Regions from separate parts of the Homo sapiens genome. Here region 2 is linked to region 1. Evidence: fine-mapped expression QTL. A gene starts in region 1. The other region holds a variant in brackets. All regions are shown on one strand. Distances are from middle to middle.

Region 1 (11,804 bases):
GTGGGTAGCCAGGTACCAGATTCTCTTGGCTTTTGGCTGCGCACTCATTTGGCGATTCATGTTTTCGGGTCAGCTTACAGACCCCATGCCTTCAACCGTCAGCCCTGCAGTTTCTCTCTCCAGCTCAGAATGAAAGAATATGGGTTCCAGTCCTGGGTCTCTGTGAGAGGCAAGCAGAGTGGAGGACAGGCTGCTGTCCCCCGTCTCTCCAGGGTGGACCTTTCAGCAGGACCACAGACCTGCTCAGCTGTAGGGCTAGGAAGGATGGCCATGGATGGGAGGGTCTCTTGCATGGGAAAGATAGAATTTCCCTGGAATGCTGGGGGCTGGCCCTCTGCTGATTCCAGAATAGTACGCACTCTTGGAAGAATGAGTTTCATCTCCGGACTCTATCTCAAATATTAGTCATGGGTGACATTCCATGTAACTGTGGAGGCCTCTCAGAAATCTGACAGACCCTGCTGGGGTAGTGATTTTGAGTGTGGCTGAACCTGCAAAGTTGGGTGCTGGTGGCAGGTCGGAAGGACAGTGGAAAATCCCTTTCCCGGGGGTCGTCTTGGGATGACCAATCTAACTGTAGCTGATCAGGGCCTTTTTATTTTATTTTTCTTGTACATTTAAGTACTTAAATCCTCCAAACCTTAAAACCCTTTATATATCTTTAAATATACTTAGAATCTCTAGCAATATACAGCATGTGTCTACAGTGTTTTCATAATTATGATTCAACATGTAGATTATTTAGTCCTGTTTTTTTTTCCCTACATTATTGCATATACAATTTTCTTATACTTGTTTTACAAAGCTGCAAGACCAGTTGTTACTGAGCTTTTTCAGAGGTCACAGGTCCCTTTGATAATTTGCTGAAAGTTATGACACCTGCTCCCCACTCAAAATGCACACACACACAGCCTTGGGCACCATCTCAGGAGGCTCAACGACTCTTGGAAACCCATCCTCTGTGCTAAGATCCCTGGTGTTAAACTGTGAGTGCTTAGGGGCCAGCAATAGGCTTTTGTTTCTGAACTTCATCATTATTGCCCCCAAAAGTTTCTGTGACTTCTAGTAGTAGGTATTCAAAACCATGCCTGTTCGAAGTTGGACTTAGCAGTAGCTGGAGTCCCCAACTTCAGTGGTTTGCACTTGGGCATTCACATTGTTTCCAGTTTGTTGCAGTTTAACAAGTGTTGCTATCAACACCGTTCTATGGGATATTTTTTCTTTTTCTTCCTAGATGGTCTTTTTTGAAAGGTATTTGGGCTTGAAAAGCACATGTACTTTATCAGCTGTGTACCTCTGCTATTGTACAAGGAAAGCCTCATTCTCTTCTGTCCGGATACCATCCTTCAACACCCTACTCAAATGCCGCCTCCTCCAAGAAGCCTTCTTCCCTCCACTTGGAAGTAAAATCTGCTTCTCTACTCATTCCTCTCTCATGGTCCTCATCTCATGCCATGTTCTGTTCTAGCTGATAACATTTACATATGTGACTCAGTGGTATACCTCATGTATTTGACACACAGAACGGATCATTTTAATGACCCTCTGCTCTATAAGACAAAAGTATTTTCAGTCATATTTATGTAAAAATCAGCAATCATCACTACTTTCTCGATTTCTTCTTTAGTTATAAAGCAGTGAACAATTTTTAAAAAGACAAATACATTTTAACTTTAAGATATTCAAATGCAGTAAAAATATTTTTCGTATGAGTCCAAATTTTTACCTATCAAACAAGATGTTACAACTCATTGTTCACAATCTGTTTTGTTGCTTTAAATTTTAAACACATATGAGAAGCTTACAGGGGTCACCTAGGATGAGAGAATTGAAATAATTCAAGTTCTGGTTTTTTGTTTGTACAACCACTACGCTATCATTTTTTGTTTCAAATCTACTGTTTACATGCAGAAGCAGGTAATAAGTGCCACTGAGGTTGGAGACATAAGGACGTCAAAGGATCTGAACCATCGCACACTTACTCTTGCAACAAGAACACGCCCCTGAGTCTGTGCATGTTGGGGCCAAGTGCATAACCGGGAGTTCTCCAGATTAATGTCAATGTAGAACACAATATTTATGAAAGGATAAATAATAAAGATGTGATGAATTTGAAGCTTACATATACTTACTACATAAAATCCAACAGTAACCACGGAGATTGTTTAGAACTTAGGCCATAAAACCATTTTTTTCTGGAAAGAGCTTTGCCTTTATCGCTGATACTCTTTCTTTTGGGATGGAGTTTCACTTTGTTGCCCAGGATGGAGTGCGACGGCGCCATCTCGGCTCATTGCAACCTCTGCCTCCCGGGTTCAAGCAATTCTCCTGCCTCAGCGTACCAAGTAGCTGGGATTACAGGTGCCCATGACCAAGCCTGGCTAATGTTTTGTATTTTTAGTAGAGATGGCATTTTACCATGTTGGCCAGGCTGGTTTTGAACTCCTAACCTCAGGTGATCCACCCACCTCGGCCTCCCAAAGTGCTGGGATTACAGGCGTGAGCCACGGCGCCCGGCTGACATTCTTTATAATTGTGATAATGACAGGCAGATCAGCTTTTGGTTATATTTGTATTTAAATTCTCCACAGACGGTTGCTCTTTTATTGATGGCACATCCCCCCTCCACCCAGTCCCATGGCCCCCTATTCCCTCCCCACCCCACTCCCACCCCATTTGACTGTAAATTCCTGCAAGGTGGGGACGGCTGTGCAGCCCCCTGTTGTACAGTGCCCACTGCACAAGCGCAGTGGTTTGCAGGCCAAGGCCCCAGGGAGATCGCCTTAGGATGTCCTCCCTTTTCCTCTATGGGAGGCCAGATTTTCTTCCTACATTTCAAACAAAGCAATACATCACAACAGACTGAGTACAGAAACAGGTAAGATAATCCAGCTGTCTTGGGAAGCCAGATATTAGAGAGATTTGCAACATTTCTTTGTAAAACAATGTCACTCTTCTCCATTTAAAACTTATTTGGAAAATACAAGTTATTTTTCATAAAATTACATTATATGTGTTAATATGCAAGGGTTTATTATCATTTTAAAAAGTGTTAGCAGATTTTAAAGATTTCTCAGTTTTAATTTCTAATGAAGGAAATATTGATATCTCACATAATAAACACTGTTTGGGGTCCTCAGTGATTTTTAAGAGAGGAAACGTGTGAACAGAGTGTGTGAGTTGTACTCAGGCACTGCGTTACGTATGGCAGGTGCTCATGTATGCTTGTGACACTCATGAGGGACTGACTGAATAGGTAGCTTTCAGCTGCTCCTAGGATTTGCAAGCTGAGGCTGGGGTGGAGGGGAGGGAGAAGGTGCCTGTTGATAGTGGGCCCAGTACCGGGAAGGTGGGACTTGCCAGGGTCTAGGAGCAGCGTTGGCTCTCATGGCAACACCGACTGGGGAACCTGGGTCTCAGGCATTGGGGCTGGGCATAAGTGTGATGTGCCATGTGGGCTTCAAGCAGCTCACGCTATCCAGTCCCCCTTAGTGCTGAAGGGCAGGAACAACTGTCTAAATCTCCCTCTCTGTGAGAGGAACTGAGCAGAATGTTTTTCTAGAAACCTCTGGCTGTCAAATCACTGGGTGTGGGCTCGACACAGAGCACTGCGGCCTCAGTAGACAGATTGAGGCTGCAGGTACCTCTCCCTGCTCTGCCCTGACCAGCTATGCGACCGCCGGCAAGGCACTTAACTGCCAGCTTACTCAACCATATGGTGAGGATGAGATAAAATGTCCGTGGAGTGCCTGGCACATGCTGGGTGTGCAGCACATTAGTGACTCCATTAGTAAGATGTCATTAATAATAAATACTCAAAAGAAGTAGGCTGGGAGGAGGGGCTAAAGAGGAAGGGTCCTTGAGGGAGTACTTCCTGGTGCTCGATGAGTGACAGTTGAAGCTTGGCATAGATCATGGTTTCTCAGCCTCTGCACTAATAATGTTTTGGGCCAGACAATTCATTGTTGTGAGGGCTGTCCTGTGCATTGTAGGATGTGAAGCAGCTTCCCTGGCCTCTACCCACTAGATGCTGGAAGGGAAGCACTCTCTCCCTGGTCTTAACAACCAAAAACCAAAAATGTCTCCAGACATTGCCAAGTGTCCCCTGGAGGGCAAAATTGCCCCTGTTGAGAACCATTGGTGTAGAAACTTTCCTGACAAGGGCTCCACCACAGGACACCGGCTTCCCTGCGGTTTCCCCAGAAAGACATCATACCAGCCACATGCACACAGATTGGGCTCACTCATTGCAGAAAGAATTCTGCCAAGAGATTCTGCTTCCAAGAGAACAAGAGGCCTCCTGACTTGGATCCTCTTTTCTGAGGAACCCTCTTGCTAATAGTGGCCACTTCTCTCAGCATTTGCACAAACTAGGCCCCGGGGAAAGAAGCAGGCTGATCAGGACAATGAGATTGCTCAAGGAAAATCTGGACAATACCCAGAAGCCTGGGGGAGGCCATCCCTCCCTTCAACCTCTATCTCAGCACTGACAGCTTCCAATTCCCATGGCTCCATTGCAAAAACAGTCCTGGCCAATCCACAGTAGAATGGATAAAGGAAGTGTGGCATGGTCCCGCAGTGGAATGCTACAGCAGTGAGAATGAATGAGCCTCAACTCCACGAAACTGCATGGTTGACTTTCACAAACATAATGTCGAACGAAAGAAGCCAGACGCAAAAGAGCAACTGATGTGTTTCTATTAATGAAAAATCTCCCCAAAGGAAAAAATCATATATGTTAAGGCTCAAGGGGCACACAAGGAAGGCTTTGGGGTACTGGTTCAGTTTGTGAGAACTCATTGAGGATTTATGATAGAGGCCCTTTTCTAGAAGTGTGTTATAAACTTCATTAAAAAGTAAACAAACAAATACAACATTCCGGGGCAAAGGGCAGGAAAGGCCCTTTAGCAAAATCACTATGAACCAAGGGAATAAAGATTACCAGCAATTTTACCTGTATGGCTCTAAATTATTATGTAAGGGTCATTTTTGGATGTGGCTTTATAAATGAGATGATGTGTCAAAAATAATTAGTATAGTGCTTGGCACAGAAAATACTTAGTGAATGGCAATAATTAATACTGCTACTCAGTTATTAACTGGCCTATGAAGTAAAATAGTCAAATACAAAGGAACAGCCTTTTTCTTAAAGGGGAAAAAAGCTTCTGAAATTTTTAGGTACATCCCGTTAGGGAATTTCTAATTCTCAAAGTTGTCGGAGCTCTCTCCAAGGCTAGTCTTAGAGAAAAGAAAAATCTCAGACTCTACCTTAGCGTTACTAGCTCCTGACCAGTAACCAGTACCAAAACAAATTCCCAAACACCTGTCTAGTCTGGCCAAATTGTTCAATTAACTGATCCGTCATTTATTGGTCCACTGCTTAGCCTGGAAGCTGGGCTCCACTCTACTACCTTCCTGATAAGGCATTTGATCTGTCTTTCGCCATCAATCTAGTTTGTGAATTTACAAACAAAACAGGCAGGACGGCTGTTGGATTCTTCAGCCTCAGACTAAAATTTTGGCAGCAAAACAAAGTCTAGAAATTGTGCAATGATATCTCTACTTTAGACCTGACTGGAAATAGAACTCTCATAAATTCCCCTCTCTTCTGAGAGAGGCAGGCAATTAGACAACCCCAACCCGACAGAGCATTTCATTGCAAGCCTGGCTCCCCGGTTGCAAATTAGATGCCACATTAACTCTCAGGAAGATCTGAATCGCTTTCATATCATTTGCCGCTGAATAACTTTTAGCATGACTGTTTCCATATCAGATACGCAAGAGACTTCACTGCTAGCTGCAGGCACTCTTAGAAGACTTTTAATCCGAGGATGATTTTCTAAAATTTCATTTCTGTTTACAAACGGCTACGTGTCCCTGTGAACCTGTGAGGTCGTGTATAGAACCACCTGGCACGCTCTGAAGCAAGCTCTGTCCCATACAGTCAGAAACCCCTGGATTCTTTGTGACACACGTTTTAAAAAGAAAAGTTCATGCCCATCTCTGGAGAAAAGTCAGGCTCTTACCTGGTTTCAGGCTTTGTCCAAGGGCACTTGATTGGATAAAGATGCATAAAACCAACAGAATGGAGAAACACAGGGGACTTGTGTCCATTTCTCCGTTTCACCCGGGGTCCAGGCTTTCTTGGTAATTTCTGAAGCCAAAGAGACCACAATGCCTATTAGATACTTTGTTAGGGAAGACTGCCCATTAATAATTAACCTCTCAACATGTTATCCACTGTTCAGACCCTTTCTTTACTGCCCCCAACTGCAAATCTAATTATATCTATTTTAAAAAGGTCGATTTACAGAAGTGCTTCTTATCCTGACACATTTTGAGAATAAAATACCTTGTTATGTATTCTTACCTTTTGGGGCCAAGGTCAGAGTTCCAAATTAATCAACTTAAAGCTACTGTGTTGTGTTTGGAAATTCTGCCAAAGGTCGGGGTAGGTGGCTTCCACGTGGCTGCCTAAGCCTCCCTGTGACAGCGCTGCAAGGGGGATGCTGGCTCAGGAAAGTGGTGTTTCAAATTGCAGCCTAAGCCCAAAGAAAAAGAAAAGGGCCCTGCCACGCAGAGAGCCCCCAGAGGGTCCAAATTTCTGTTGGGTTCAGTGAAATTGGTGATGCTTGTGGTCAAAGTGTGGTGCAGAAAACCCTTCACCCCCGTGTCAAAAGGAGCTGACGAAGAAGCAAAGATGCCCTTGCCAAGTGACCCATTGAGAGGTGATCCTAGAGTAAACACACTTCTTCCCCCTCTGTGTTCATTAATGTTCCAGCTGTGTAGAGGACTGAAAAGTAAGGCCACTCAGCAAAATCAGGTAGGGAAAAGGCGACCATAGATGGCTTTTGTGATATTTTTGGACCTCTAGTTTTACTTTAACTTTCTTCATTTGTTCAACATTTATATATTTTGGTATGCCTACTAGGTGCCAAGCACTGTTGCAGGCACGTGGGGTATACAAGTCCTTATGTATCAGTGGAGGTTCTTACCTTCTGGAGTTGGATAACGGACAGTAGACATAATAAAGAAGAGATTTCTGGCCAGGAGCGGTGGCTCACTCCTGTAATCACAGCACTTTGGGAGGCGAGGAGGGCGGATCACGAGGTCAGGAGTTCGAGACCAGCCTGACCAACATGGTGAAACCCCATCTGTACTAAAAATACAAAAGTTAGCTGGGCGTGGAGGTGAGTGCCTGTAATCCCAGCTACTCAGGAAGCTGAGGCAGGAGAATCGCTTGAACCTGGGAGGCGGAGGTTGCAGTGAACTGAGATCGCGCCATTGTACTCCAGCCTGGGCGACACAGAGAGACTCCGTCTCAAAAAAAAAAAAAAAAAAATTAGGTAGACTGGTAGAATGTAATGGGAACCACTACAAGAAAAGCAGGGGGTTGGGGAGAAGGTAGGGATTTTAAGCAGAGTGGTTAGAGTGAATTGCATTGGGAAGTTAAACTTTCAGCAAAGGTTTGAAGGAAGTGAAGGAGTTGCCCCTGTGGACGTCTTGGGGAGGAGAGCTTCGGGCAGTCTGTGCAAAGGCCCTGAGGTAGGAGTATGCCTGGTGTGCTCCAGGAATAGCAAGGAGGCCAATGAATGGGGAGACATTGTAAGGACTTTGACTTTTATGCATTGACACATGGGGGGCGACTCTGAGCAGAAGGGTGATATGATTTGTATTATAGTTTTAAAATATCACTCTGGTTTGCAAGTGAGCCAGGGTGCAGTGGGGAGATCTGTTAGAAGGCTATTACAGTGGCCCAGTGAGAGGTGATGGTGGCGTGGCCCAGCATGGTAAAGGGCAACTGCGGAGTGGTGGATGGGTGGTGGATATATTTTGAAGGTAGAGCCCACAGGATTTTCTGACTGCTGAGTTGTGAGATGTGGGAGAAAGAGAGGAGTTAAGGATGACTTCCAGGTTTTTTGGCTTGAACAAGCAGATTAATGGGGTTGCTGTCAGCTGAGAAGGGGAAGCTGTGAGTGAAGCAGGTCTGTTGGGGGAAGATTAGAGATTCAGCCTTGGCCACGTGGGGCTTTGAGATGGCTCTTAGACATCCAAGTGGAAACGTTAAGCGGGCAAAATTAGATAACATGGTAATTATTGCCTGGACGAGCCTCATTCAAAGGGCCTTCTGAAGCCACCACCAGACTTGGACGATCTTGACCCAGTCTAAAGCTGTGTTCTGTCCTATGACTGTACCTTCCTCCCAAGCCCCGAAGCTTGCGGACCATCCCGTCAGATATACAATTTCTTTTTCTTTTTCTTTTTTTTTTTTGAGATGGAATCTTGCTCTGTCGCCCAGGCTGGAGTGCAGTGGCGCGATCTCGGTTCACTGCAACTTCCACCTCCCAGGTTCAAGCGATTCTAGTGCTTCAGCCTTCAGAGTAGGTGGGACTACAGGTGCCCACCACCATGCCTGGCTAATTTTTGTATTTTTAGTAGAGACGGGGTTTTACCATGTTGGTCAGGCTGGTCTCTAACTCCTGACCTTGTGATCCACCCACCTCGGCCTCCCAAAGTGCTGGGATTACAGGCGTGAGTCACCGTGCCCATCAGATATACAATTTCTGAGCAAGGACTTCTGCCTTGGATACTTGGCTGGCTCCTGCACAGTTAAGCAGAATCTGAAAGTTCCACTTTTTTTCCTATAAAGCTGGCACGTAAGACCAGCTGGCTACCCATCTCGGGCTCCTCTCCCCTGTGCCCACCCTCATCTCCTCTCCTCTGGGTACTGCCAGTAACCACCGCCACTCCCCATTTTATTCGGGACACAAACTCATCAAAAGACACCAGTGAATCCAAGTGCCTCTGAAATACCAACCGTGTGCCCCCACCCGCCCCCCAAATTTCTGCAGAGTACACTTTCTTACCACTTTCTACGTGGTAAGAACACTTTCAACATGGGAAGAAGCCTTCAAGATTGTTTCTAGCTCTTGTAGTTCCTTTACTTGCACCACCCCAAATTCCTCTAACATCATCTCATGCCAACTCAAATTCTATAAGGCTCTCCTGGAAAATGACAAGGAGGAGTGGGTACCTGTCCCCTTTCAGGGTGTTGTCTGCTTTCACCTCTACCTAAGCTCTTCCAGCCTGCCCCATCACCGGGTCTGACCTTCCAGTGGTGGTTTTAATGCACAAGCTCTGTTGTGTTTTCTTGAAGCTGACCAGGGAGGCTACTGGCAGGGAAGAGGGGAGGACTTCACAGAGTATGAGATTTCCTGAACTGGGGGGGTCCTAGGCCTATCTACTTGCTGTATATAATATTATATAACCTTAATGAGTTCAATCTCCTCACCTATAAAATGGGGACAACATGTATCTGAGATAATATTTTGAGATATCAACTTATTTTTCTCCCAAACTGTCTCCCTTCCACTTAAGAGGGGCAAAGTAGAGAGAAGGCTACAAATCTTTTGTCTTCCAAAAATATAGGACCTTAGGGCAAGTGAATTTTATTTTATTTTATATTATTTTATTTTATTTATTTTAGAGACAGGGTCTTCCTATGTTGCCCAGGCTGGCCATAAACTCCTGGGCTCAAGTGATCCTCCTGCCTTGGCCTCCCAAAGTGTGGGCAGGTGAATTCTAGCCAACAAAGAAAAGCAAAAGACTAACATTTCTTGAGGGGATGTGAAGGGAGAAGGAACCCCTCACCTTGCCATCACTAGAAAGACATTCTCTTGGGCTTTGCAGGTGGTGTGGAAGGGGGAGGTTTGTCTATGGGTCTGAGAGCAGAGGGGACAGTACCTTGCTTCCCAGAAATCCTGCTGGAAGAGAAGAACCCAGGGAGGAAATGGCTGTGTTGGCACATGGGCAAAAGATATACCTGGCTTGATGTAGGGTGGGAGAGCAGTGAGTCTCTGGGGCCAGCAGGTCATGTTGATGGGAGGATGGGCCCCTCAGTGGCCACCAATGTGGACTGATGACAGAGGACTAGGTCACACTCCCCTGACCCCATGCCTGGCTATTGTATTTGTCCAGAACTATGGCATAACTACTGGGGTTGGGGGTGGGGTGGGGAGAAGAAATCCAGAAGGCCTGAAAATAGGGGTTAAGAGTCAGGAATTTAGATGGGTTACAGAGAATAGAGAAATTTATTGCACATCAGAATCTCTGGACTGAAATTAATACCTCTAGGAAAAGAGGTATGCCATGAATATTAGAGATTTGTGTGTAAGGTGTCAAGCCAAGTGCCTGGTTCATAGTAGAGGGTCAATAAATTATAATGACCTATTTTGTGGGCAATATACTTAGTGGTCAAGGGTCCATGCTTTGAGGCTGGGTGCAGTGGGCAGTGGCTCACACTTGTAATCCCAGTGCTTTGGGAGGCTGAGGCAGGAGGATCACTTGAGGCCAGGAGTTTGCGACTAGCTTGGGTAACATAGCAAGACCCCATCTATATAAACATAAAAACCAAAAAATTAGCCTGGTATGGTGGCACACACCTGTAGTCCTAGGTACTTGGGAGGCTGAGGCAGGGATATTACTTGAACCCAGGAGGTGGAGGCTGCAGTGAGCTATGATCACACCACTGCACTCCAGCCTGGGTGACAGAGTGAGACCCTATCTCTAAAAGAAAAAAAAAAAAAGAGTCCAGCCTTGGGAATCCGACAGATACAGGCTTGAATTCCTAGTCTGTCACTTGTGCTTACTAGCTGAGTGAACTTGGATAAGACATTGTGACTGAGCTTTAGTTTTCTTCACCTGTATAATGGGACTAATAATACCTCCCTAGTCTGATTAAGTGAGGCAATGCATGTGAAGCCCTCAGCAATCCTAGGCCACAGGAAATAATTAATGGTAGCTAATTTTTTTTAATGTTTAAATTCACTGAGGGGATCACGAAGGTGTCCAGGAGGTAGATAACAATAAGACCACAGTGATATAATTGTAGCAAAAAATGTAAGGGGCAGGAAAACACAAGGGTCTGGATCAGTGGCTGCAAAATCCAATTGAGCATGAGAATAAGAGTCAGCTGGGGAGCTCAGACAATGACAACTTATGGGCCCATCCCAGGAATACTGAGTAATGGAATCAACACTAGGGTCAAGGCCCAGTGAACCTTCATTTTAAGCAAGATCTCCAAGTAATTCTTGGTTACACAAAGTTTGAGAACCATTGCCTCAGAATGGTGCTTGAGAGATCTTCTGGGGCAAAAGAAGAAAATAATATAGACCTTTCAGATTTTTCTTTGTATTTCCTTAGACAGTTCATGTTTGTGCACGTATAATGTTTATAGCATATAAGTACTATATAATTTGCAGGTGGTACTACGGAATATACTAGTGCTATATTATTTATAAACAAATAAATAGATATTGGGGATAAGATGTGTTGTCAAAAAATGGGTAAAGCCTCTGCCTTAGAGAGACAGAATGGCTCCCAGGGCTGCCAGACCTGACTGTCATGTGCTTGACTCCAGCCATGCATCTGAGCAGTCAATAGATCCATTCATAGCATCTTTGGTCATTTCCATGCCCAAGGAAGCCCAGCAGTTTCTTGAGGCCTCTTCATTTCCTATTAGCTAAAGAGGAGGCAAGCCTGAGCCTCTTAGAGTTTGGAGCCTCCAATGGAGTGATCAGCATGGTGCATGTTAGCAGAGCTCTGTGGCTTCATCCTTTGCAATTCTTTTATTTATTTATTTATTTTTTGGGGGGATGGAGTCTTGCTGTGTTGCCCAGGCTGGAGTGCAATGGCATGATCCCGGCTCACTGCAACATCTGCCTCCTGGGTTCAAGTGATTCTCATGCCTCAGCCTCCCTAGTAGCTGGGATTATAGGGTGTGCCACCACACTTGGCTTTTTTTT
Region 2 (11,804 bases), 23 kb after region 1:
TTGGTCAGGCTGGTCTTGAACTCCTGACCTTGTGATCCACCAGCCTTGGCCTCCCAAAGTGCTGGGATTACAGGCATGAGCCACTGGGTCCAGCCCAAATAGTAATTCCTTTACAAAAGATATTCTGTGATTTGTTATAATCTTCTGGCATCAGTAGAATTTACCTTAATTAGTGGCTACATGCTATTGTTTTAATTTATAGCTGTATTTTATAAGCTCAGTTAAAAATGATTTTTCTGCCTATGCTCCTTGAGTAACCCATGGATAGATAAAATTTATTGATCAATAAAATTTAGCAAATAGACAGTATGCACAAGCCATTCCTGCCTTTTAGGTCTTTAGTAGATGTTGCTAATTGCCTGCATTATTTTCTTCATCTGTGTATTCATATATTCACTTATTCAGCAGCTGTTTTGGGAAAATCTGCTAATATCTTTGAGCCTGGTTCTAATCATTTCGAGCCAGTTTTATAGGAATTGGCACTTGTGCACATTTGCCATCCTAAGACCGTGTGTTTATGTGTGTGTGCGCCTGTGTGGTATTTCTCACAGGTTTGTGGATGGGGATAATACTCATCTCTTAGAATGAATTGGGTATCAGATCTTGTTTTTCTGTGATTTGGAACTGATTACATAATACAGAAAAATCTGTTTCTTGAGTATGTAGTAATATTGTTCAGTAAATTTGTTGAGGTCATAATATTTCTTGTGGTAGATGAGATTTTTTTAAATAACAGCTTTTCAGTTTCCTTTGCCTTCATCATTATTTTCATGTTATCTACATTTTCTCTTGCCAGTTAATATTTTGTGTTGTCCATTTGGCTAAGCATTTCAAGTTGATTATCATAAATTTTGCATTGCAATCATTTATATTTTAAAATCTTTTGTATCGGTTGTTAAATCACTAGCCTTGTTTTTAATTTTGTTGATTTATACCTTTTCTTTTATTTATTGTATTTCCAAGGGATTGATCTATCTTATAATCTTCTCACAGAATGAGCATCTAAATTTATGTATTATTTCCACTGATTTCCTCTTTTCTAGTTTATTTCTGTCCTTACTCTTTATTATTATCTATTTTCCTTTATATTGACTGTCTTCATAAGATTTTAAGTCAAATGTTTATTTCATATTTCTAAAATAAAAGCACATAGATTTACGCCTTAACTTCTGGGCTCTGATTTATACAAAGCCCCCTCCCTTTTGATATGGGGTGTTTTCAATTTTATAAACATCTCAAAAGTTGTTATCATGTTCTTAATTATCTACTTCACTGGTCCCTAACATTTTTGGCACCAGGGACCAGTTTTGTGGGAGACAGTTTTTCCATGAATGGGGGTGGATGCGTGATGGTTTCAGAATGATTTGAGCATATTGCATTTATTGTGTACTTTATTTCCATTATTATTACATTGTTAATATATAATGAAATAATGATATAACTATAATCTACTCACCGTAATGTAGAATAAGTGGGAGGCCTGAGATTGTTTGCCTGAAACTAGATGGTCCTGTTTGGGGGTGATGGGAGACAGTGACAGATCATCAGGCATTAGATTCTCATAAGGACCATGCAATCTAGATTCCTCACAGGCACAGTTCACAATAGGGTTTGTGGTCCTATGAGAATCTAATGCCACTGCTGATCTGACAGGAGGCGGAGTTTAGTGTGAATGTGACTGATGCGTAGCGACTGTAAATACAGATAAAGCTCTGCTGCTCACCTCCTGCTGTGTGGCCAGGTTCCTAACAGGCCACACACTGGTACTGGGGGTTGGAGACCCCTGTTCTACTTGAACTTGTAGTTTAGGAAAGTTTTTGTGGTTGTTAGACATTGATACCCATTAATTTGTTGCTGCTGTAATTTTTTATTAATATTTTAATATAATTTTAAACTTACAGAAATGTTAAAAGACTAGTATGAACTCCTATACACCCTTTACCTAGGTGCACTGTTGGTTTGTATTTTTCCCTAGTTATCATTCACTCTGTCTTTATGGATATGTGAATGTTTTTCTGAACAATTTGAGAGTAAGCTGCATACATACATATATATCTAAATACTTCAATATATATTTCTGGACACAAATATTTTCTTTTATAAAATTCAAGAAATTTAACAGTAAAATCAGGAAATTTCATGATACCATATGATTAATCCCACCATCCACATTCAAATTGTCAGTTATCCCAATATTGTGTTTTTTAATATATATAAAACATATATTAAAAACATATATATAAAACATATATAAATATAAAATATATGTGTGTTTTATATATGTGTGTGCGTATACGTGTATATATGTAGAAAGACAGAAATTGAGGGTATTTTAGAATTTACAATGACAGACAAGAAACTGAGATGGCTGTATGCCTACCGCAACCACCATCTGTAGGCCACCCAAGAGTAAATATTTATTTTCTTCTTGTACTCTGTTTTTCAGAAGTTCATGTTTATTTTCAAATTTACTATTTTTTATTATTCACATACTATATATTCATAGTAGAAAAGATAAAGCAATATAACAAAAATTGGCAGAAATATCAGTGCACAGAGATAACCACTGTTAGTATTTAGATGAATATTTTATAGACTTTTGCTTTCAATCGACAAAAACTCTAGATACTTTTTCTAGTTAAATATGAGTACATTAAAAATGGAGTTATATTGTACGGCTTACGGTTTTAACTCTCTTTTAAGTCTTAGTTTATTTGACATACTTATAGGTAATCTTCATAACAACTTTGCAAGGTAGAGCCTCATTTTTAGATGAGGAATCCAAGGTTCAGAGAGGTTCAGTAAACTGCCCAGGTCACACTGCAGTAAGGAATGTAGTTTATAATCTAAACCCCGAACTGTTTGCTGCAAAGGCTCTTGGTTAGATTATTCTTTTGCCCAAGGCTCCTTTCATTGCTTTTACTTATTCACATTTAGCTTTATTGCATGTGGTGAGAAAATATGTATATTTTTTCCTCTTGATTCAATTTTTAGGGCCTTATTTGAGAGTTAGTATATATGTACCAATGCCCCCATATGGAAAAAAATGTGTAATCTATGTTGGTATTGAGTTCAGTGTATGTCTATTGGTTCTAACTTATCAATTGTATAACATAACCTCTATTGTCTATTTTTGTCACGTCTTCAATGTCTTCTAAATTTTTGTCTATTTAAATTTGTCTTTATTTTTTACTCTTGTCTATTTTTTTCTTAGCCTTGAAATGAATTAAACTCTCCCTTTACAATTGCTTGTTTTTTATTCTATTTCTCTTTGCATTTCTGACTTTAGTAACCTCTGTCTTCACAGTTGATTTTCTATTTTTTATCATAATCAGGAGCTTCTTTGTATCCTCTCCCTGTGTTTTTGGCTTCAAAATCTCTTTTATATGCTATCAACTTTACCAACTATTTTCTTTTTGTCGTATGAGTTTCCTCATTAAACCTTTTTATTTTAGCATTTCTGCATTTTTTGGGTAACAGATTCCTATTTTTAAGCAACATACGTATTGTTGGGTCTTATGTTTTAATCCAATATGAGAATTTGTCTTTTTAGAAATCAATGGCCTAAGGCCGGGCGCGGTGGCTCACGCCTGTAATCCCAGCACTTTGGGAGGCCGAGGTGGGCGGATCACAATGTCAGGAGATCAAGACCATCCTGGCTAACACGATAAAACCCCGTCTCTACTAAAAATACAAAAAATTAGCCGGGCCTGGTGGCGGGTGCCTGTAGTCCCAGCTACTCGGGAGGCTGAGGCAGGAGAATGGCGTGAACCCGGGAGGTGGAGCTGTGGCAGTGAGCCGAGATGTTGCCACTGCACTCCAGCCTGGGTGACAGAGTGAGACTCCGTCTCAAAAAAAAAAAAAAAGAAATCAATGGCCTAAATATATAAAGTTCTTTGGGGAGAAGCTAGTGTATTGATATGAGATGGGCTCCCAGCTACTAGCTGTGGACTTTCTACAAGTTCCTTAAATACCCTGTGAGGAAGCTACTTACAGGCGTCTTTATCTGTAAAATAATGTTAATAAGCACACCAACGTGATAGAGTTGCTTCGAAGATTAAATGAGATCAAGAGCAATCAGAAATAGAAGCATATTAAAGCATATTAAACTGATTATTTGTAAAATGCAATTGTCAATATTTGCTATGATAGACATTATGTCTGGAAATACCATCCAAAGCAAGTTTCTTGGCAGTTAGAAAGCAAGTTGGTTAAACGATGATCTATGCTCAAAATGGGGATAATCAGTTCTATACTTTTCTCCAACCATATTTTAAATTTTTCTTTGAGATAATGGGAATAACTTACAAGAAAAACTGCTGAGAAGCAGTGGTCCAAAGCCTTTTTAGAAGCTCTCAGGGTTCAGTTCAAGTTGTCCATCTCCATTTCTGGCTGCACCTGGAGCTTCACAGCTTGACTTAAATTCGGCCATGTCAGGAATCACTCACTGCCTTGCTTTCCATTTAGTTAATTAAGTGCTTAGGTTTACAAATAAGTTATTTGCTCTCATGACGGGTATGGAAGCTGCAGGCTTTGCTGTGCCTTGGCAATTCTCATCAGGCGTGGAAAAACTGAAACTAAGAAAAACCAACCAAGCGATGATAGATTTTCCACTTCCTGGATTGTGTGACTTGCTCATCCAATGAAAGGCAATGAGGGTGGGGTGGGGGGCAACCAGAGATGAGGACTGATTCTCAGCTTGTTGTTCTCCTCAGCAGTCCTCCAGCCCCTGTACAG[C/T]TGGAACCTCTGCATCAGTGAAAGCTGCTAGGAATTCAAAGTGCGTTCACATTCACTTCTGCTCCTCAGGATCAGAGGCAGTGAGGAAAGCTAAAAAAAAGTCTGAGGTTTAAATTGGAACCCATTTTTAACTTTTCAAATGTTCTTGGTATTTTAAGATCCAGAAAACCTTAAATCAGACAATTCTATATTACCAAACTGAAGAATAGTCTATAATATCATAATCTGATATGCTCCAGACTGACCTGATTTATTTTTACTTGTATGAACTTCAAATCTGATGGCTTTTATTTGATCCCTCAGAGGATGCTGTAGGTCCATTTCCCATCTGATGCAATAGAGGTGTCTTTTTTTTTTTTTTTTTTTTAAACTTCTCTGATAATAATCATCATCTGGTGTCTTGTTACACAAATGTTTCTAAGTTCCTCCCTAGAGATTCTGCTTCAGTGGGTCTGGGATGGGGCCTCAGATTTGTGGTCTCTTTTTCTGTTTGTTTGTTTGTTTTTTTGAGACAGAGTCTCACTCTGTCATCCAGGCTGGAGTGCAGTGGCGCGATCTTGGCTTACTGCAACCTCCACCTCCTAGGTTCAAGTGATTTTCCTGCCTCAGCCTCCTGCTTAGCTGGGACTACAGACACACACCACCACACCCGGCTAATTTTTGTATTTTTAGTAGAGACGGTGTTCTACCATGTTGGCCAGGCTGGCCTCAAACTCCTCATCTCAAGTGATCCACCCACCTCGGCCTCCCAAAGTGCTGAGATTACAGGCATGAGCCATCGTGCCCAGCCGGATTTGTGTTCTTAACATTAGCTTGGGCAACAGTGGAGTAGACTGAGGGGATAGATTCTACTTTTACAATTAGAAAGCCTTGGGCTCAAGTCCTGGGTCTTTCACTTGCTCGTTATGTGGTCTTGCACAAATTACTTAATCTTCCTCAATCTCATCTGAAAAACAACTGGAGATAAAAATATCTAAAAGTGTTGTCAAGAGGATTAAAATAACTAACACCCTTGATAGCATCCACTTTTCTCAGTATTGCTAAATCATTTCTACCCAGGTTAATTTGAAGATTATCTGTGAATTTATTTAGCATGCAGGCATAATGTTTTTTACTTATTTTCCTTGTTTATTTGGTGTATATTTGTGAAGCTTTTGCTGTGTGCCAGACACTGCGATTTTTAGAACACACTGAGCACTCCCTGATGGTATCACCTGCTCACATGGTCCATCTCAGGTTGTGTTTTCGTTTTTGTTTTTTGAGACAGAGTCTTGCTCTGTCTCCCAGGCTAGTGTGCAGTGGTGCGATCTTGGCTCACTGCAACCTCCACCTCCCAGGTTCAAGCAGTTCTCCTGCCTCAGGCTCCCAGGTAGCTGGGACTACAGGCATGCACCATGATGCCTGGCTAATTTCTGTATTTTTGGTAGAGATGGGGTTTCACCATGTTTGCCAGGCTGGTCTCGAACTCCTGATCTCAAGTGATATGCCCGCCTCAGCCTCCCAAAGTACTGAGATTACAGGCATGAGCCACTGTGCCCCATCCATCTCAGGTTTTTGAAAGTACTACCCAGCTTTCTTGTGTGAAAGAAAGCAGGCCCCTAGTTATTCATGGAGCTTCTTGGATTAGGAAGGCCATGTCCTTATTCCTCCTTTGTACCAGAAATTCAATTTTTCTTGAATCTAATCGTGTATTTTTTTCAAAAGAAAATATATATAAAATTATTCGATTTGATTTTACACAGAATATGTTCCAGGTACTTTGCATTAAGTGAATTGTCTCTTTTTGGACAGAAAAACCTTTGTACTTTTCCCCCTCCCCTCATAATAGCAAGAATCCAATGGATTTTTGATGATTATGCCTATGTTTTCCTTATATTTAGTTTTGCTTCAAAAGAATTTAAAGCACTTTTAAAAGATAAAAACAATGCAAGACATTAAGAGGAAAATTAAGTAGGAAAAAAGGATGGGAAAAATATAGTGAATTGATAAATGAAATTACACTTCAAATATATGTTGTACAGTCTTTTATACTTCCCAGTGATGGGCCAGATATTTGGCTCTGAACTCTCTAGCTCTCATTGCAAACCCTCTGCAGACAAAAGATGGAGGTGATGATTCTCAAGCCATGTAGATGATTATTGGGATCATCATCTATATGAGTCTTGAACTTTGTTTTAACTTTTCCACTGGCCCAAGACTTTGGGTCCTAATCAACATTAGGGTCATTAAGAGTTTACAGAAGGGTCATGAGTACCATGGAAAACTATGTGCTCGCCAATCTTCCAGCCAAACACAAAATAGATCAGGGAATAAGGAGGCCTCCTGCTGCAGAGGAGATGATAGCCAGGTGGGAGAGCTGGGCCAAGGATCAGCCAATTTTCTGGTACAGAAAGTGTAACCATGGCAACAGTAGTGAAGGTAGCTCTAGTTCCATCAGCAATGACACCCTTAAGAGGTACCGGCAGAGAGAGAAGCCTGTTGTACATCTGGGCAAGGGTCTCGGTGAGGGAAGTTCATGTAATTTTTAAGCATAATCGTTGGGAGAAAATAAACAGCCTCTTTCATGTTAACCTTGCAAACTCAAATAGACAAAGTGAAGGCCAATGACTGGCGGTACTGCCTGGCTGAGGCTGGATGTGACTGCCTTGCCTGGGAACCTGTAGCCTGCCTCAGGTTTGCCTTTTATTCTCTTTACTTTCTAGTAACAGTGCTCACAGGACTTTCAATAAGCAAAGCCCAGAGGGGGAGAGTTGCTTTTGAAGCCACACTCTTGTCTGCCTCATTCATTTCAAACAGAGACACTTCTGAAAGAGACGAAGGCCTGTGTACAAACAACAATGCCCACTGCATTCTGTTGCCTTCAGCTGTGATGTGGTGGCTTTTGATTCTACACAGAAGGTCCTTGTTTCAGACACTGATTGATGGGTCTTCTGAATGGAGGAGGCAGCAAGAACAAATGAGCAAGGCCCCTGGTAAGGCCAGGTGCTTCAAGAGGATGGGCTGGAAAGTGCTTAAAATAAAAGGTAAACACAAGCCTCCACAACAGCAAAAAATACCAAGGCACTGAGTTCTGAGTGGTTGATAATTGGTAGTTCCTAAGGATTTCCACATGTTTGTGCAAACACATATAAGCTCCTTGGAGAACTCTGACCTGGAATTTCAGACTTTTTGGTGGAGGAACCAAAAGTTAAACCCAAATAGATGTCATAAAACAGGTAAAAGTAATTGAAATAAAGAGCACTGGAGGTCTGAGTCTGGTTTGAGGCAGTGAAACAGAAAATAATGCAGTGAAAGAACAGGTGATGGGGCATCTCCGTCTCAGAGAGGGTTGTGATTTTTCACCAGAAACCCATGGAAAGCCACATAAAGGCTCATTCTAAACACAATGGACAGTGTTAGGACCTGCTGTGAGGAAGCTGTATGAGATGTGCCTCCCTTCTCCATCAACCCTTGTCCTTCCGTTTTGCCTAACAGAAACAAACCAGTGAAAAATCCACATGAGAAATCTGGCTATACTCAGTACTTTTGCAAGAAAACACTATGAAACTCCCTGTGAGTCTGCATTCTTCATAGTCCGTGGGGGAGCGTGGTGCAGGCTGAGGAGATGGGGTGGGGATAGTGAGGGTGGAGGGAGAGGACGGGAAAGTTAAATGAAGCAGGGATCCTTGTCCTGATCAGTGGTTTTTATACATTATGTTCTTATAAAAAAATAATTTTCACCAGCTAGATGATGTTCTACTGTTTAACTAAATTAGGGGTGTTAAAATAGAGATCATAAGAATGACGGAATGGACTCTTTGTGGCAAAAAGATACTAAATTATAAACAAGACCCAAGGCCATGCCAGGGTAGGGTTAAGTCACACATCCCAACACTTAAAGAATAAACTAGGTTCTAATAGCTGCAAGGTTTTTCTTTTTCTCTAGCCGCTAAATAAGCACTGGCCTCTGGAGAAGCAATATTGAAATAATTGCAGCTCACCAACCACCAGACACTAACTCATCCATCTCCCTACCCCTTTTCTGCAAGCCATAACTACTACTTTGATTGGATAAGAGACTGATTTCAGTAACTTTCTCCTGGTTAAGAGTCCACTGACCATAGACTGGTTCTGGCCAGTTTACAGAGGCTTGCACAGAGTGCCTTCCTGTCCCCTGCTTCACCATTTGACCTATAGGACCTAATTGCAAGGAATTTAAATGTTAAGTCTGTACCCCAAAGTGAACATGGGACGCATGTAACATGCATGTTTGTTTACTAGGCATGTGTGTACCTGCCTTCGGGAATATTCATAGCTCTTCCTATAACCTGTTGAATATGTGTACTTAGCTAACCCGTTCATCACAAATTCCTGTTCTACTCTTTCCTCCCTCAAAGTGCCTGCTTTTGGTTTCTGCTGGAGGCTGTGCTTCCAAGCCTGTGGGATTTCCAGCCTGCAGGCTGCAACCCTTTATAAAAAACAAACCTCTCCTCTCCAATATTATAGCTCTGTGAATTTATGTTGACAGGTTAATAACTCAATTTCACAGAAAAAAATTAAATCAGACACTCTTTTTTGCCCACCCAACAGCCCTTCTCTCCTTTAACTTTTCACTTGCAGAGTCCTACTTTTGATTGGCAGTCCACCTGTCCCTGTCATGATTCAGGGAAACTTGACCCTATCCTGAACTCCAGGAATAAGTCCTAATTACATATTTTTTAGTGGTAACTGTGGTAGGTAAAATTTTAAGATGGTCTTATGATCTTTACCCTCTGGTGTCACATCCATGAGTATGGCAAAAGGCTTATTATCTATATTATTATCTAATCACATGAGCCCTCTTTGGCTAGTGGCAGAAGTGGGGAAGTCAGAGAGATTCAAAGTATGAAAAGGATTCAGTACATCATTGCTGACTTTGAAGATGGAGGGTGCCAGGTACCAGGACTGAGAGTGGCCTTTGGCATTGAGACTAGTCCCTGGTTGACAGCCAGCAAGGCCATGGAGACCTCAGTCCTACAATTGCAAGGAGCTGAATTTTGCTCACAACCTGATTGGGTGTGGAAGTGAATTCTTCCCAAGTCTCTAGATGAGAGGTTAGCCCTGCTAACACTTTGATTCTAGCCTTGTAAGTACATGAGCAGAGAACCCACTCAAGCCTTCCTGGACTTCTGACCTATATAGAACTGTGAGAATCTAAGTGGGCATTGTCTTAAGCTGCTAAGTCTGTGGTTATTTATTTTGCAGCAATAGCAAACGAGTAGAGCAACAGATATATAGTGTCAAGAAATCCAATCCATATTTCTGTTCAAGAGGAATTCGTTTTCAGCTCTGACCCTGACCAGGAATCAGAAAGTTACCTATGGTAGAAGGGGTGGATTAGTTATCCAATAACCCTCTTGACTTTTTTCCTTATGCACAGCACCACACACCCACTATGAAGGTCACAAATACTGGATTCTTGCTTTCCTAGCTACCCTTGCTGCTGGAGTGGTCATGTGACTGGGATATGCCTTTGGCCACAGACCTCTGAGAACACTAGACTAGAGCTGTAGCAGCCATTTTATAGCCACGAGGCAACAAGTCTAAGGATGGTAGAGTGGAAAGAAAGGAAGGTCTTGTTTGTTTCATGACAATTTTGAGCTAAGGTGCCATCTCTGGAATTGCCTGCATTCACATCTTTTGTTATATAAGATAATTAAATGTCTTTATTGCTTAAGTCTTTGTTAGTTGGGTTTTCTCTTGCTTGCAACTGAACATGTCCTTACTAATACATTACCCTTCCCAACAAAAAGTATAGAAGGCAAAATGCAGAGACATCTGAGGTAGAGCGAGTACAGAGTTGAGGATCAGGCTTTTGGCACAAGTAAGAAAAATTACGTAGGTATTCAGGGGCATGAAGACAAGTCGCCTTTGGGTGACATCTAGAACTATTAAAAACTAGTGAAATTCACACATTGGGAGACTTCCATCTCAAGATGTTCTCTGACTCTCCGTTTTCTATTTTTTGAGATTCTTGCCCATTGCGGAAAAGTACAGATGGTCATGGACTGATGATATACTAAGCCTTAGTCTTATGACTGGGATCATTCCTCTGACCCCAGTGAGCATCAGTTTACTCATCTGCAGAGTGCAGATAGGATAATAACCCCTTACGTCACTTGGTTTTGTGAGAATCAGATTTGAGTGTGTACGTGAACTTGCTTTGGAAGCTTTAAAGAACAGCTTTGGTGTGATGTCAGAACCTAGCTTGGTGTCTGGCACATAGTAGGTGTGCTCATTACATATTTGTTGGATTACTGTGCCGTGCCTATTTGTCTATACCAGCTTTGTTTGCACTGCACCATGAGCTTGCTGTCTGACTAATTGCTCCATATTGCATCTACTCTAGATAAAACTTAAAGGATTTTATTAAATGCTTTCTTCTTGGCAGTGGTATATTAGGTACTGCAGCCTGGATGGAGAATTTAGCATTTGTTTCCTATGTATTTTCCACTAAATATGCTGTGACAAGATGTCTGTTTTGATCAGGGACACTGTCAATTATTCCTCTCTCAGCCCGACTTTCTCTATGATGTAGGGTGTGAAGACATCTGTTGGCTTTAACCTATCACTCTTGTGTGAGATGCCTTGGCTTCACTCAACAGGGCTGTGTCCAAGGCAGGCTGGCCCCCCGTGAACTCTCAGGCTGCCGAGTCAGTCATCCGCCAGGTGACAGGTGGTGCCTTTGAGACACTGGGGAGCAAAAGGAGACAGTCTTACCTGGACCCTTTAAAGGCTTCCTTGTGCCAAATAAACCAGGAAATGGCTTGCTTCTTTCAGGCTTGCCCCTTGTAATATCATCTACTTTCCCATCTCTTCATCTGTGACTCACATTTTATGGCATCCCCCATGGGTCTTGTCAACTTTTGGCCTCTCCCAGTTAGACTCATGGGACTGCCACTTGATGCTAGGTGTCTGACATGAAGCTCTCCCTGGTTTTTGTCTTGCTTTGCTCCATGCCACCCTGGATGTGTGACACGACACCACTAGAAGCGGGCACCTTGGCATCTGAGAAAGACTCATTGTAGGTTCCTCACCAAAGGGGATTA

What was found. PIP is the estimated chance that this variant, and not a neighbour inherited with it, causes the effect.
Region 2: its variant is fine-mapped to the expression of LIPC in whole blood (TOPMed, PIP above 0.99).

The regions. Positions count from the first base shown.
Region 1 is chr15:58,426,343-58,438,146 of GRCh38, reverse strand. LIPC (lipase C, hepatic type) reads right to left here and starts at 6,156. Exons shown (of 9, transcript NM_000236.3): 1 at 6,027-6,156. The coding sequence starts at 6,114. It overlaps LIPC-AS1 (LIPC antisense RNA 1), which reads left to right. Exons shown (of 3, transcript NR_120338.1): 3 at 1,235-3,246. RefSeq lists a silencer at 7,843-8,137 and an enhancer at 7,843-8,137.
Region 2 is chr15:58,403,323-58,415,126 of GRCh38, reverse strand. No RefSeq gene overlaps it. Among named protein-coding and RNA genes, the nearest start is that of LIPC, 23 kb to the left of the region's middle. RefSeq lists a silencer at 4,363-4,657. The variant C/T (reference allele first, on the strand shown) is at 4,738.